Linked DNA regions of Homo sapiens: region 2 is linked to region 1. The links come from fine-mapping of genetic effects on gene expression. Tissue or cell type: whole blood. Region 1 holds a variant in brackets; the other region holds the start of a gene. All regions are shown on one strand. Distances are between the middles of the regions.

Region 1 (8,179 bases):
GGCCTCTCCGAGCAGCTCGCCAAAGGTACCACAAGGGCCTCATCCACAGCCTCCTGGCCTCTAACGTGCCATCCCCCTGGCTCCTCACAGGTTACCTGTGCTTGTACATGGAGAAGGATGAGATGCTGGGAGCCACCCTCATCCTGGCATGGGTCCCCAACTCTCGCATCCAGAGGCAGGACGAGGAGGCCCTGCGCTACATCACACCCGAGAGCTCCCCCGTTCGCAAGGCACCCCGCCCTCGGGGCCGGCGCACCCGGAGCTCAGGAGCCTCCCACCAGCCCTCCCCGACGGAGCTGCGGCCTACCCTGACCCCCAAAGATGAGGACATCCTGGTGGTGGCCCAGAGTGTTCCAGACCGCATGCTCGCCAGCCCTGCGCCAGAGGATGAGGAGAAGCTGGCGCAGGGCTTGGGGGTGGATGGTGCCCAGCCAGCCTCGCAGCCTGCTTGCAGCCCCTCCGGGATCTTGTCGACGGTCAGTCCGCAGGATGTCACCGAGGAGGGGCGGGAGCCGCGGCCCGAGGCCGGGGAGGAGGATGGCTCTTTGGAACTGTCAGCCGAGGGCGTGAGCAGAGACAGCTCCTTTGACTCAGACTCAGACACCTTCTCCTCGCCCTTCTGCCTCTCGCCCATCAGCGCGGCGCTGGCCGAGAGCCGCGGCTCCGTGTTTCTGGAAAGTGACAGCAGGTGAGTTCCTGGTTCTGGGCGTGGGCTCTCGGGAGGCCCCCAAGGCCTGACCTGGGCAGGAAGCACTCACCTGCGTCACCTGTGATGCCAGGTGAGCGCTGGAGGCATCTGCCCGACCTGCCCGCGGCTGTGGCCGTGGCTGTGGCAGGAGCCCCTCCCTGAGGCAAGGGCTTCAGCAGGGAGTCCCCACTTTACACCCCACTGAGAGGACTGTGAAGGGTGCGTCGGGGTGTCCACATTCTTCTCTCTCCTTGAGACTCACTAGGACTAAACAGGCCCTACCAGGTCTGATGGGCCCATGACCAAGGCTAAGCCCCCGGGAGTCCTGGTCCCTTCTGTTCCCATCACCGGAGGGGCAGGAGATTTTCAGTCCCCAAGCGAGTGCCCAAGAGGCCCGGGTGGCATCATTAGGCTCACGCACAGGGCTGGCCCAAGCCCAGATGTGCTGGTCTCCAGCTCCCCGCTCTGCCCTGCAGCCCACTGGGCACGTGACCTGGCCCCCTGTGGTCCCCGGAGGCTTCAGCCTCCCTCTTTCTCATAGCTGTGGAGGATGGATGTAGTCCCGGGGCAGTGTTGACCATATTCACCCGACTTGGCAGCCGCTATGCACCCTGGGGAGTCCAGCCAGAGTATCTGGACTCCTTGCTGGCCACACTTGCAGGAGCTAGAGTTGGGCCCGTGCCCTGCGGTGGGTTCCCTGGGCCTTGGAACCCAAAGAGACCTTCCTGAGTGGGGAGGGTTGCATGGTGCCACGAGGGCCCTCATGGCCTTGGGGTGAGTGCCCGTGTGGTCGCATAAGCCCGGAGCCCCAGAGCCAGCACAGGGGGCCTGCATCCGACTTCCACAGCCCCTTCCTATGCCCCGGCTGTGGTCCTTACGCTCATTAGATTTCTGGGCAAATAATGGTGGTGACCACAGACAACAGTAAGAGCCGACATCAGTCAGCGAGCAGGTCATTAACTGTTGAGCTCGTGGTGTGAGCCGGGCGCATGCTGGACGTGGGTGGTCTGGGTCTCGCCTGGGCGCTGGACACCGTGGGCTATGGATGGTACGTGTGTGCTTTCCACAGCCCCACGCCCCGTGAGGTGGGCCCTCCTATTATCCCCTGCTATCGAAGGGGAAAGGGCGGCTCGGAGAAGGTCAGCAGCTTGCCAGGGGTCTCCCAGCCAGTGCCCGGGCCAAGCTGGGATGTGAACCCAGCTGGGTCTGCCCCAGGGCTGCAGCATAAAAGGTCACCCCAGGCCGATTAAGCCGGGGAGTGGTGGGGCATGAAGTAAGGACACAGGCTTTGCTGGCCTCAGCAGGGGTGACTGTGGGACGGGTTCTTCCCTGATTTTATCCCTCCAGTAAAGATGCAGTCCATTAGAGCCCCAGGGTGAACCGATAACATTCATCTCAGTTATTGGAGAGTGCAGATAAAAGGAAGCCGTGAGCCGTAACTGAGGACTCCAGGTGCCAGGAGGCTTGCTGAGCTGGGTGGCGTCAGGCGCCAGGGAACCCGAGGAGGTGTGGGGGAGGCGGGGCCCGAACTCTGGTCCTGGCCTGGGTCCCGCAGGCCGGACTCAGTCGGAGCTCCCCCTGGTGGTGCCAGGCCAACAGTGCAGCAGAACCTGCAGGCGTCCCCGTGTCCCTGCATCCCCAGGGCCCAGGCGAGGGGAAGGTCCCAGTTGTGTCTCAGAGAGGTGGTGGGGTTGGCCCACGGTCTTGGGGCTGAGGATTCTGTGGCAGAACCACAACCAGAAGCTGGCCGGTCAGCTCTCTGTCCCGCAGCCCCATCTCGTAGGGAGCTCAAGTTTAGGAGTTAGGGAGTTGAGTGCCGGTTGAGTCCTGGCATCACTGGTTAGTGTGAACCTGGGAAATTCTTTCTTTTCTTGGAGCCTCGGTTTCCCTGTTTGTAAGATGAGGCTGGTAATATCCACTTTCTGGGGGTATTGTGAGAATGCACCCCGGTTCGCTTTTCCCCGCCCTTCGCCTTGCTGGTTCTTCAACCTGGCTGCATGTGGGGGTTCCTGGGGGAGCCTTTAGACGCTGATGCCCAGGTCCCTCCAGGTTCTTCTAGAGCAGTGATTCTCACCCGGGGCCGAGTCTGTGCCCAGGGGGTGTATGGCAATGCCAGGAGACACTTTTTTTTTTTTTTTATCACAACTGAGGGTGGGGATGTATTGGCATCAGTGGGCAGCGGACAGGCGTGCTGTGCACTCACTCTGGAAGCCAGGCTGTCCCTCTGCCTGGGACCCACCGGGGGCCGCCCATCATTTTCAGGATGAAGCACCATCTCCTTCACTCGGGGTCCAAGGCCCATCACCATCTGGCCCTGCTGAGCGATGCTGCCTGCCTCCCCACCCCCCACTGTGCACACCTCCAAGTTCGTCGTCCTCTCTGCCTCTAGATCTTGTGGGGCTCTCTCTGCCTCATGCCTTTGGCTAGGGATCCCCTCTACCTAGGCTTCCTCCTTCCCCTCTCTCCTAACCGGCCAGCTTATATGTTTGAGACTCAGCTCCTGGGGCGAGGCACCTTCATGTCAGCTTTTGGGGGAGGCTTCTCTATTCCCCCGAACCCTGGGCTGAGGAGGGCCCTCCCCATGGCCCCCTTCTCTGCTCTGACACTCGAGTCCCCACTGAGACACCCTGTCCGCCTGTCCGTCCCCAGCTGCTGGGAGGCAGATGGTGGTGAAGGAGTAAATTTTGGGGTCCGACAGATCTGTTTCCAGTCCTGGCATCATCCTGAGTTATGTGTGATCTTGTGGCCATTACCTCCCACATCCAAAACGCAGATGCCTCACGGGTGTGAAGTGCGGCCAAGAACCCCCTTGTAGGGCAGAGTCGGCGTGAGGGTTGAGCACCAGCCTGGGGTATGGGGTCAGCGAGCCTGGCCTGGGACTCGTCCCCACCCGGAGACCGTGCTGGGGGGTGCTTACCACAGCCCGGCCCTGCTCCTGATGAAGGCTCAGAAAATGCCTCTTGGCCACATGGCCGCGGGCTCGGTGTGGCTCGCACCTCAGGCCTGTGTCAGCCCGGTCCAGGGGAGGCTCGCTGAACGTGGCGAGTTGCAGCTTTGTGCTGGGACGAGGTGGATGTGGATGGGACTCTCCCCACCCCGCCAGAAGCGTGTGCTTCAGTGCAAGGCTGGAGTGAAA[AC/C]AGCCTGTCTCCAAGACAGACTGCTGAGAGCTTTCTTTTTATTTTTAAAAAGTAGATATGGAGGCCGGGCACTGTGACTCACGCCTGTAATCCCAGCACTTTGGGAGGCCAAGGTGGGTGGATTGCTTGAGCCTAGGAGTTCAAGACCAGCCTGGGGAAAATGGCAAAACCTCATCTCTATAAAAAATACATAAAAATTAGCTGGGCATAGTGGTGCATGCCTATGGTCCCAGCTACTCAGGAGGCTGAGGCAGGAGGATGGCTTAAGCCTGGGAGGTGAAGGCTGCAGTGAGCTGTGATCATGCCACTGCACTCCAGCCTGGGTGACAGAGAGATACTCTGTCTGGAAAAAAAAAAAGAAAGAAAGAAAAAGAAAAGCAGACATGGATTCTGAAAGGGGCTGGGCGAGCCCTGGAATCTGCATTTCCCTGGTCTTTCCTTGCTCCTGTGCGCTTCTGGCCCCCACCACATGGTAGACCCAGGAAGCAGAGGTGGTGCTCCTTGCCCCATCCCCATCCCCCGGGGCCTTCGTATGATGGGACTGGAGATCCTTGGCTAAGGTGGTTAATTGTCCTAGACGCTGTAGAGCAGGCGTCCCCAGCCCGGCTGCCCATGAGAATGCCCTGGGCAGCTTTAAAAATCCTGATGCCCAGGCTGCACCCAGACCAATTAAACTAGGATCGCTGGGGTGGCGCCCAGGCATGGGAATGTTTTGAACTTCCTGGGGGTTTCTGAAGTGCACGTAGCGTTGAGAACCCCTGCTGTGAAGGGGCTGAGAGAGAGAGAGAGAGAGAGAAAGAAAGAGAGAAAGAGAGCGAGAGAGCGAGAGAGAGCGAGAGCGCTCCTGGTGCTCTGGGGTGGGGAGGGGTGTCAGGGCCGAGGACCCCAGATGACTGGCCATCCCGCCAGGCAGGGGTGTTGGTGAGGACTCGGGTGCACCCATCGCCACTCTGAGCGGTGGGGCGTCTATTAATAATTAACCCGGAGTTGAGTCCCCCCGGAGGGCAGAGCAGGTAGGCTGGCTCGAGGGTCCCCTCTAGTGGTGGATCTGAAGAACTGCATGTGCAGGCTGCGTGTCTGGCTGAGATTGGCCAGGAGGGACAACTCCCCCACCCCACCCCGGGGGCCTAGGGTCCCCCAGGTATATGGTTATTTGGCAAGTAGTTCACAGAAGAGCTTAGGGGTTAGAAATGGCAGTATCCCCCGGGCTGCCCACATTCGTGTGCTACCTGTAGAGTATGGCCAGGTGGGGTCTGCATGCTGGAAGGTGAGCCCACCTACTAAACCCAGAGGTCTCCTTTGGAAGCCCCAGGCCCCAGGCCCCAGTCCAGCGACGGCCTGGAAATCCTTGACCAAGTGAGTATTCGAGGCTGACTTGGGGGATGGGGTGATACGGAGAGCTGCTGTCGCCAATGCGTCGTCCTGCCTCCCCGCCCTGAGACCCCAAGACCCTGAGCTTCCCCGAGCCGGGGGTGAGCCCTGGGCTATCTTGGTCCTGTGCCCTCCTCAGTGTCAGAAAGCAAGGCTCTCGGGTGTGCTGGGGAGGGTGACCACCAAGCGCGACTGGTCATCCTGCCCTTGGTTTCTGTGCTGGAAGCTACCGTCCAGCCTAAAAGGCCAGTTGGGCGAGGGTGTGGAATAACGGGGCGCCATGGGGCTGGTACCGTGTCCACTGACCCTGCCCCGGGGATGTGCATTGGTGACCTGGATAAAGAACTGAAACAAGCCTGGGCAACATAGCGAGACCCCGTCTCTACCAAAAAGAAAAAAAAATTAGCTGGGTGTGGTGGTGCACACCTTTAATCCAAGCTGCTACTCCGGAGGCTGAGGCAGGAGGACTGCTTGAGCCTGGGAGGTGGAGGCTGCAGTGAGCCATGATCGCACCAGTGCACTCAAGCCTGGGTGACAGAGTGAGACCTTGTCAAAAACAAAAACAACAACAACAAAAACAAGAACAACAAAAACACCAGATTCTGCTCCCTAAGTGAAAATGTCTCCTCTGGACCTCATCCTAAGAAAGAATCCAAATTACAGATAGAAAGGCCAAAGTGGCCGGCACGTGGCTTAAGCCTGTAATTCCAGCGCTTTGGGAGGCTAAGGTGGGCAGATCACTTGAGGTTGGCAGTTGGAGGCCAGCGTGGTCAACACCGTAAAACCCCATCTCAACTAAAAATACAAAAATTAGTTCAGCATGGTGGCACATGCCTGTAATCCCAGCTACTTGGGAAGCTCAGGCACGAGAATCGCTTGAACTTGGGAGGCAGAGGTTGCAGTGAGCCGAGATGGTGCCCCTGCACTCCAGCCTGGGTGACAGAGCTAGACCTTGTCTCAAAAGAAAATAAAAGTAGAAAGACAAACGCTTCTGCATGAAGATGTTCATCGTGGTATTCCTTACAGTGGGGAAAAAGGAGCAGAACATAAGAATCCAACGGCAGAGGAGGTGGACCGACTAAGGTCCCTCTAAGGTCCCTCTGTTGGATCAGGGAGTTTTCAAACCTGGGCTCACGAACCCCTGAGATCTTACCCCACTTTTTTTTATATGAGGAGGAGGCACCATCTGACTTCCCAGAAGGTCTGTGACCTGTAAAACGTTCAGAAGCTCGGTGCTGCCAGATAGGAGAAGATGTGGTATTGACAAGGACTGTCAAATGGTCCATGCAGTGTTGCAGTGTGGAAATTTAGAGTGAATCAGACGCAAAGCAGGAAACGGGTTATGATTCTGCCCGTTGCAGTTAAACTCTGTGAAGAGGCCTGAGGTGCAGATGAGGCTCTCAGGGCAGGGCTGCCCAGCAGAGCTTCTGCCAGGGCAGACAGAACCCAGGTCTGCGCCGTCCCGCACTGCGGCCACTGGCTTCATGCAGCTCTTGAACCCTTGAAATGGCGCAAGTGCAACTGAATTTTTAATTTTACATAATACGGATTAATAAAATTGTTTTTAATTTTAAAATGTTTTTAAGTTTCGTTTTTAGAGACAGAGTCTCACCGTATTGCTCAGGCCGGCATACGGTGGCGGCAGCACAATCACAGCTCACTGCAGCCTCCACCTCCCGGGCTCGAGCGATCCTCCCACCTCAGCCTCTCAAGTAGCTGGGATTGCAGACATGCACCACCATGCCCCGTTCATTTATTTTATTTTTTAGAGACAGACTCTTGCTCTGTTGCCTAGGCTGGTCTCAAACTCCTAGGCTCAAGTGACCCTCCTGCCTGGACCTCCCAAAGTGCTGGGATTACAGGCATGAGCCGCGTGCCCGGCCCTGATGAATATAAATGTGGATAGCGCCTGTGGTCAGTGGCCACGGCAGTGGATGGCAGAGGTTGAGAGGAAGGTGTGCCCACGTGTTAGCCTAGTGTGATTATGAGCACTTTTTTTTTTTTTTTACTTTTCTGTTTTCAAAAATGTTATTCTGTGATTATATTAAGCTTAGAATGAAAACCAATGTATAAAAATAGACAGAAGGGGAGAACCTGCACATTTGGGGACGCTAAGCATCTCCCACTGCGCTGCACGCTGCTAACTAGTGAAGAGGCCTCCAGGGCGAGCTGGTCACTGAGGTCCTTCCAGTGACACCAGTGCCGCCGGCCTGCCACCTTGGGTCCCGTGCCGCCAGCGGGGCCTCCCCCTGGGGAAGTGAGTGTTTCGTTCTCTCTCTCCCTGGGTCCTCTTGTCATTCCCGGCATGCGTTCCCGGGGTGGCCAGCCTAGGCAAGATGGTGTTTGGGTGTTGGGATGGGCTGGGTGGCCTGGCCTCAGAGTTTGGCCACTTGTTACTGTGGTTTCTGTCATGCAGTTCCTGCCAGGTCAGACTCAGTCCAAGCGGGTTGGCGCGGCCACAGGTGGGCAAGGGCCAGGAGCAATGTGCTGCCCACCTGGGGGTGCTGCCGGGACCCCCTGCCCTCCCACTTTCCTCTTGCCCTTTCCTGCACACACACTGGGCACTTCACCCCAAGCATAGCCGCTTCCCACCTTGCTGCCCGCAGCTGGAATGTTCTCCTCTCTCCTGCTGAATCCCCAGCCCACCTGCAGGTGGAAGAGACTTTCTTCTCCGTGACCCCTGCTGGGACCTGAGCTTTCTCTCTGGAGAGCTCCTATCAAGGCCGCGTGGTGTTCCCTACGTGCGCCACCGTTCCCGGGTGCTTCCTCACAGGGTCCTCCCAGTGCCTGGGCCAGCGCCGTCAGCAGAGCGTCCTGCAGTGCACGCGGTCCTGTGCCTGTGCCCCACTGTGTGTGGCCACCACGCCCTAGAAATGCAGCAGATGTGGCCAAGCAACTGGACTTTGGTCTTTCTTTATCTTCAATGAATGTGAAGTTTGGTGGTCACAGCGGGAGGCCTCCATGCCTGACAGCACAGGTCTGG
Region 2 (8,170 bases), 29 kb before region 1:
TGTAATCCCAGCTACTTAGAAGGCTGGGGCAGGAGAATTGCTTAAACTCGGAAGGCAGAGGTTGCAGTGAGCTGAGATCGTGCCACTGAACTTCAGCCTGGAGACAGAGTGAGACTCTGTCTCAAAAAAAAAAAAAATCATGTTTCATGCTTCAGTTTATCTGTTCTTTCTTTTTTTATTTTTTTTTGTGACAGGGGCTCACTCTGCTGCCCAGGCTGGAGTGCGGTGGCGTGATCTCGGCTCACTGCAACTTCCACCTCCTGGGTTCAAGCGATTCTCCTGCTTCAGCCTCCCAAGTAGCTGGGACTACAGGTGTGTACCACCATGCCCAGTTAATTTTTCCATTTTTAGTAGGGATGGGGTTTCACCATGTTGGCCAGGCTGGTCTTGAATTCCTGGCCTCAAGAGATCCATCCGCCTCAGCCTCCCAAAGTGCCGGGACCACAGGCGTGAGCCACCATGCCTGGCCCTCTCTGCTTTTCATAATCATTTTTGCATCCTTTGTTACAGGAAATGAGTTCCGAAAAACTCAGGGCAACCCAAAGTTGGACATCCTTTGCATCCCTGACTAATCACTGACACTGTAGAATGGGGTAGGAAGAAAATGAGTCTCTCTTCAACTGAATTGAGTTTGTTCTGGTGCAAGATAATGTCATCATACAATATACTTGACCAAGTCCTAATTCTCTTTATTTATTTATTTTTAATTTAATTTTATTTATCTATTTTTTGAGATGGAGTCTCGCTCTGTCGCCAGGCTGAGTGCAGTGGCACAATCTCGGCTCACTGCAACCTCCATCTCCCAGGTTCAAGCCATTCTCCTGCCTCAGCCTCCCGAGTAGCTGGGACTACAGGCGTGAACCACCATGCCTGGCAAATTTTTGTATTTTTAGTAGAGACAGGGTTTCACCATGTTGGCCAGGATAGTCTCGATCTTTTGACCTCGTGATCTGCCTGCCTCGGCCTCCCAAAGTGCTGGAATTACAGGCGTGAGTCACCGTGCCCGGCCTATTTATTTATTTTTGAGATAGAGTTTCACTGGTCACCCAGGCTGGAGTGCAATGGTGTGATCTTGGCTCACTGCAACCTCTGTCTCCCGAGTTCAAGCCACTGTCCTGCCTCAGCCTCCCGAGTAGCTGGGACTACATGTGCGCACCACCACGCCCGGCTAATTTTTATATTTTTAGTAGAGATGGGGTTTTACCATGTTGGCCAGGCTTGTCTCAAACTCCTAACCTCATGTGATCCACCTGCCTTGGCCTCCCAAAGTGTTGGGATTACAGGCGTGAGCCACAGTGCCCGTACTCTGATTCTCTTTAATTCCTAGTAAATATAAGCCCGGAATAACTGCCCATAGGGAATTTTACCATGTGGCTTTCATTATTCCCTTCCTTCTCTCCCTCAGAAGCCGATCCATCTTCCGGATGGGACCTGGTTTTAGAGAAACAATTGAACAGTTTCAAGCAACAGCTTTCTTTTTCTTGGTCCTTATCCCCTCCTGAATTCTGCACATCTGTTTATTTACTTGTTACTTCTCTGCCACCCCCAGGCTGTTGTCACGTCTTTGTCCTGTTTGTCAGGAACCATAGCACTATATCATGCCTGTCAGGTGGCGGAGATGCCACAAAAGCAAAGCTCCATGAATGAATGAAAAATATAATTATTAAAACATCGAAGGAACAGCAGGATTAGATCACCCCAGAAAAGTCACCTCAAATATAACTTGTGTCTGGGACAAAACTGGGGAAAAGAAATACAACGTAGAGAAAGTAGCGCGATCAGAGTAAGTGTTCTGGGGACTCTGAGTTTCTCCACGATTTACGTAGCACAGGAATATATATATATATATATATATATGTATATCTTTTTTAAAAAATTAAAGATTCAAGCTATTTTTATCTGTCAAAGGAATATAGATATGTTCAAAGAGACAGACAGTGACAGTTCCCTGTGATCTTCCCTTTCCTTCCCAAGATAATCATTGATAACATTTAGGACCACATTCTTTCAACATTTTTCTATGTTTTAAACACACACACACACCCTGAATTAGAGATCATAGTATACCTACCCTTTTACATTTATGCCTATCGTTTTATTAATAATACCTTTAGTCTTTCCATGTCAATACATACAGACCCACCTTTAAAAAAATGAAACAATACCGATGTGTCTAAGGTAAAAAGGCCAAACTCTTTCCAATCGTTTCTATCCTTTTAAACAGAGCCTAAGCGAGCAGAGGCCCGGTGGCAGGGATCTTCACTCAGCCGCCCTCCCTGTGCGCGCTCAGTGCTTCCACCCAGGCCCCAGGACGGTGACCGCGGACTATCGCGGGCCGCCTAACCGCAGGGACCCCTCCCATCGCGGGTCACCCCCAAGCCTGCGAGAGGGGATCTGTCCTTGCAGGAGGGAGGCGCGGGGCCGGGCTGGTCTCCGGCCACAGCGAGTGGCCCCGGAGCAAGGTCAGGGGCGGTATCCAACAGCCCCGCGCCCTGCAGAGCCCTCTACTCTTAGGAGGACTGCGCGCAGGGACCGCCACGCAGAGTGGTTGCCATGGTGACTGCAGAGTGAGCGGTCCCGGGTTTTAGAGGGAGTCGCGCGCTTGGAGTAGGGGAAAGAGGGAGGCCGAGAGAGGACAAAGGGACAGGAGGGGAGAAGTGAGAAGGGTTGGCGGGGGGGTGAGGGGCTGAACGCAGTGGACGGGAAAGGCCAGCAAAATGGCGAGAGAAGGGACACAGGCGAGAGGAAGGGGGAGTGGAGGCGAAGGGGCGAGGCAGGAGCCGACGCGGGGGCCACCTGGAGCGGTGAACGGAGAGCGCGGCCTGGCGACTCCAAGACCCGCTGCCCCTCGGCCCGGCTTACCGGCCCGCCGCGCCGCCCGGTTCCGCCATTTCCCGTTGCTAGGCGACGCTGTCAACATCCGGCCGGGCCGGGACCACGCGCGCTGCGAGGGCGGGGGCCGCCGGGGGCGGCGCGGCCTTTGTGCCATCTCCACGCACGCAGAGGCGCGCGCCGTCTCGACGTGTCGTCCCTTAGACTGTAATGATTAGAGCACGACCATGCTTTTCCTTTATCGCTCTCTGCGCCCGGGTCCCGCCTCGGCTGCGCTCAATTTCTGTAAAGCGACAGCGGCGTCAGCGTGTGCCCAGCGGGCGGCTCGAGGTCCCGAAGGGACCTGCCGGGCACCTGGGGACCCCGGACTGCTAAGCGCCCGGGAATGGCAGGCGGGCTGGGGGCACCGGGGGCCGGGGACCCCGCGCATGGCGAGCGCTTTTCCATCTCCTGCCCTAGGGGGCTCCGGTGCCCTTCTCCAGGGGTCCTACGGAGACTCCTTGCATGGACGCCCGGGGGGTCTTCCGGAGCGTATCTTCCCTTCCTAGTCCGAAATAGGAGAAATCTCCCTGCAGAGGGCGGCAGCGGAGGGCCAGCGCGCACGCGGAGCGTCCGAGGAGCCCTGCCTTTCCTTTGGGGACGCCAGGCTCGGGACGGGGCACAGTCCCCGAGGCCGGGACGCGGCGAGGCCTGAGGGAGGGCCAGCAGGGAACTAGAGGCTTGGGCCCAGGGCTGGGCCAGAAGGTGGGCGGGGAGACCGGCGGGGGCAGGCAGGGGCCGGGCCGGGGGCGGGCCCGGGGGCGGGCCGGGGGCCGGGCCTCCCCGCGCGTCCCCGCCCCGCCGCGCCTCACTGGCGGCGGCAGCGGCGGAGGCGACGGTGGCGGCTCTCGGAGCCGGCGCGAATCCGGCCCCCGCAGCGGGACCCGGGTGGGTATCGGGGCCCGGACGGGGCCGCGGGGGCGGGGTCCGAGGGGTCCACCGCGCAGCGAGCAGCGCCCCCTCGGCGGAGCTGGGGCGGGGGCGCGCGGGGCGCGTGGGGCGCGTGGGCCTGCAGCCGCGGGACCGGGGAGGGGCCGGGGTCCGGCCGCCGTCCTCGGGGTGCGGGGCGCCAGCAGGAGCGGGAGCGTTGTGGGAGGACCTGGATCACGGAGGGGCACCTGGGGACTTTTCCCCGCGGCGAGTGAGGGCGCCCGGGCCCGGAATGGGCCTAATTCGGGGAGACTGGTCCCCGCCTGTCTGGAGCGGTGGACCGGGGAACTTGCGGTCTTTGTCTGGCTGAATCGGCGGAGCAGACGGATGAGAACTTGTGGGGTGCCGGCGCGCGCCCACACAGCCTCCAAAGTGTGCGTCCCCCCAGCAGCGCGCGCTCAGCTTTCCCGGCCTGTCGGGCTTGGTGGTCTGGGCTGTTTAAGATCCGCGTGTCGGGATACTCACTTCCGTTCCGCCTGGGCTCCCTTGTTCTTTCCTTTGGGAAAAAAAAAAAAAGAAAAAGAAAGAAAGAACGAAAGGAAGGAAAGAAAAAAAGGAAAGGCAACTGAAGATTGCTAAACATAACCTAGGGGATCCTGCCGGAAGCCGCTGAATCCTGAAATCCTGTGATTCCCACACTCGGAAGCTGGTGTCGTATATTGGCCACAAAGTAGTTCAGATTTGATTCAGAAATAGGAAATGAATAGAAAAGACATAACAAAAGTTAGTCTCGCCTTATGGTAAAGTTTGTTTTACTGTCTGGGTCAAGTTCAAATGAGAAGCTGGGCTGATTGGCCAGCCTCTGCGACTTGATCCTGAAGATCTGCTTTCTTTTCTACCAGAAGGCTCCTAATTCTTTTATCTGGAATAAAAAGGGAACTCCGTCTTAAAGATGCTCACGTGAGGCGGCATATTGCCAGAGGGTGGGCGCAAAGACTGGGGGCTGGAGATTCCATTCCAAATCTGTTACTGATTGATCAGAACACTTTTTCAAATCCATGCCTCAGTTTTAGAAAATCCTCATTAGAAACGCTAACAGTAAAATTGGTGAATACTAAACACTTTTAAGAACCATGAAAGCTTTTGTAAATAAAGAATAAAGTGAGGAGTAACTTTTGGTATTAACTACAAAGTTCATTAATGGATGTTGTTTGCATCCTGAGCGTGGTTATTGTGCGCATATTTTTTTGTAAGTGGCATGTTTATGGTGAGACTATGGCTAACGAAAGTTTTTATGGCGAAAGTTTTTATGGCTGGGCGCCGTGGCTCACGGCTGTAATCCCAGCACTTTGGGAGGACGAGGCGAGCGGATCACCTGAGGTCAGGAGTTCGAGACCAGCCTGGCCAATATGGTGAAACCCCCCATATCTACTAAAAATACAAAAATTAGCCCGGTGTGGTGGCGTGAGCCTGTAATCCCAGTACTCAGGAGGCTGAGACAGGGGAATCGCTTGAGCTCGGGAGGCGAAGGTTGCAGTGAGCCAAGATGTGCAACTGCACCCCAGCCCGGGTGATAGAGCAACATTCTATGTCTCAAAAAAAAAAAAAAAAAGGAAAAAAAAAGTTTTTATCTGTGGAATTATTTAATCCTCTAGCAATTTTGGTGATTGCGTTAGTAGTTCCTAATTATCATGCATGAATTCACTTAACCCACAAAACAAGCTCATGAAGTCAGGACTGCAGTTATGCCCATTTACAGATGGGAACACTGACGCTTAGAGAAGTAACTTCCCAAGCTCATGCAGTTAGGAGTGACAGAATTAGGCCTTAGGCCCAGGACGTCCCAGCTCCAGAAAACCGTTGTACAACTTTGCCCTCTGTCTTACAGAGGGTGCCCACCATTCATATACAAACATTCTTCCAAGTGGTTCATAACAGTGCAAGGAGGTGGGACTAATCCCATGTCACCACTAGCTGCTAATCTCAGTTCACTTCAGTATGGAAAGCATCCCCCAGGCTTCAGGATAAAGCCATTGAGTTTGCAGAACCTACCTACAATTGCACTGGTCTCTGTCCACAGTTTTGGGTAATAAGGTGCAGTGGTTAAGAACATGGCGTAGAAAGATGGACTGCTGGCTTCAAATACAAATCCTGGACTGGGCATAGTAGCTCACACCTATAATCCTGTATTTTGGGAGAATCACTTGAGCCCAGAAGTTCAAGACCACCTTAGGCAACCTAGAGAGACCCTATCGCTACAAAAAATGAACAAATTAGCTGGACATGCTGGTGGGCACCTATGGTCCCAGCTATTTGGGTGGCTGAGGTGGGAGGATAGCTTGAGCCCGGGAGGTCAGGGCTGCAGTGAGCCATGACCAGCCTCTGCATTCTAGCCTGGGTGACAGAGTGAGACTCTGCTTAAAAAAAAAACCTAAAAAACCCAAACAACAACAACAACAAAACAACAACAAAAACCCCAACTCCTCTGGCACTTAGTTAATTCTCCAGTGCCTTAATTTCCCCATCTATACTACCTACTTCAGAGACTTTGTGCAAGGATTATGAAAAGCATTGAATTCCTGACACATCCTGAGTTACCATTTAGGATGTGGTAAGTAATGTCAAATGGTAACATTTTAACACTGTTATTAATGACCGTTATTTGGATTTTCCACATTTAACTAGATTGACACAAAACATTTTGTTTTTGTGCTTTGACTCCTCACTCCCCTTTGTGTGGTCCATGAGGTGGAAAGTGATTCCAGGCAGATGTAGGATTTACTATTTGTGCGTATGTGTACCCTTATCTTTACAACTTGACCGGGGGCTGGGTCCCTGCAGGATGCTATGGGGAGCAGAGCTGATCAGGTTGCCTGGCAACACCACCTCCTGTGAAAATTTTAGCTCCCCTTCTTCCCTGGCTGAGGGACCCTGATTTTTGTCACAGGCCTAAATTCTCTTGTAAGATTAGCTACTTTGTTTCATCCAGCATTAAGCACCGGGGGCGGGTGGCTCTGGGATGTGAAGGTGACAGCGCAGAGGATGATTTTATGATCGAATTGTACACCATTTGTATTGCATTTGCATTATATTGCTGTTAATGAGGCCAGTGCACAGGAGAGAGCACACATTTGCACCCTTCCCAAAAATATGGGGCAATGATGTTGGAGGCCTTTTTCCGTTCACCTCAGCGGCAGTGTTTTTTATCCTGTTGGCTTTGTTGGTGTTTTTATCCTATCTGTCCTTTGAGCACCTGATGTTGCATCTCTAATAAATCTGCTTTTATGAGCTGTCTGGTGGCATCTGATTTGAAATACGTTCTTTACTCTGTCTTCGGAACTTACATAACCATCCTCAAAGGATGAGAGAAATCGGGCCACTGTAAGACTAAGTTCGATTTCTGCCCGTGGTGGCTTCTGACACATGAATAACAGAAAGAAAAGAGAAATAATCCAAATCCACTGTCCAGTCGGAATGGCCTGCCCTTCTGTTGCTGAGCCTTGGGCGGTGAGTCTGTGCAGGCGTTGGAAGGTGATACATGTGTCTGCTTGCCTGTATGGGCTGCAGACGCTGAGATGTGGCAGTATTTTCTCCGTGGTCTTTCTGGATTGGTCACTATGAAGCCAACGTACTGCGGGTGCCAAGCCCGCATCCATGCTGGCTTGCACACTTCAGTCGTGTACTGCTTTTTGCATGTTGAGTGAGCCTGAATTCAATGCTCCAATATAGTTCATCATTACTCTAGCCTTCTGGAAGTGGGGGAAAGGGTGAACTTTACAGATGTCATTTGACAGCCTTTTGCCTTTTCTGTAACTAAAATGCTTTCCAAAGCAAGATCAGTTGTGTTGCTTTTGGGTGTTGTTAATATGTCCCCCCAGTTTCAGTTTTGTTTTGCGGTGCATTCACTGCTCCTTCACTGACAGATGCTGAGAAGCTTTAGGCCTCCATGTTTACAGGCACAGCATAGAAGTAGGAGGTACCTGAGCCAGACTCAGGGCAGTTTTTGATTTCCTGGCTGGGTCTGCATCTTCCCTTACCCTTTGTGTTTAGTCTTTCCTTAGTCCCAGATCCAGGCTCACCTCTGAGTTGAGTTTCTTCTCCCAGGCCTGACCTCCTTGGCTCTTTGCGGGGGAAATGGGATTTTACAATCTACTATCAAGGGTGCACAAATGGCAGATGGTCTCTCCTTGGAGGCAGAGGCTTTGGGGTTTTCCAGGGAGTGGGTGCTAATCAGGGTGACCGCTGGACAGTTGCAAAAGGAGAGTCACAGCCACACAGGCCACCAGGTTTTCCCTCACCACCGTTTTGGTGATGGTCCTGCCCCGTTATAGCCTCTCAGGGGTCCTCTTTCCCTATGGTCCAAGATCCCAGCACTGCAGTGAATGCCCTAAGCCCTAGTTTCTTCATTTTAAATACAACTTGATGTCCC

Evidence for each region. PIP is the estimated chance that this variant, and not a neighbour inherited with it, causes the effect.
Region 2: it holds the start of TBC1D16, and the variant in region 1 is fine-mapped to the expression of TBC1D16 in whole blood (Lepik 2017, PIP 0.95).

Annotation. Positions count from the first base shown.
Region 1 is chr17:80,002,669-80,010,847 of GRCh38, reverse strand. TBC1D16 (TBC1 domain family member 16) reads left to right here. Exons shown (of 12, transcript NM_019020.4): 3 at 91-688. Among named protein-coding and RNA genes, the nearest start is that of TBC1D16, 29 kb to the left of the region's middle. RefSeq lists an enhancer at 7,969-8,179. The variant AC/C (reference allele first, on the strand shown) is at 3,825.
Region 2 is chr17:80,031,384-80,039,553 of GRCh38, reverse strand. TBC1D16 (TBC1 domain family member 16) reads left to right here and starts at 3,682. Exons shown (of 12, transcript NM_019020.4): 1 at 3,682-3,759. It overlaps CCDC40 (coiled-coil domain 40 molecular ruler complex subunit), which reads right to left and starts at 2,912. Exons shown (of 20, transcript NM_017950.4): 1 at 2,863-2,912; 2 at 1,368-1,431. The coding sequence starts at 2,891. RefSeq lists enhancers at 2,110-2,404, 3,304-3,423 and a silencer at 3,614-3,683.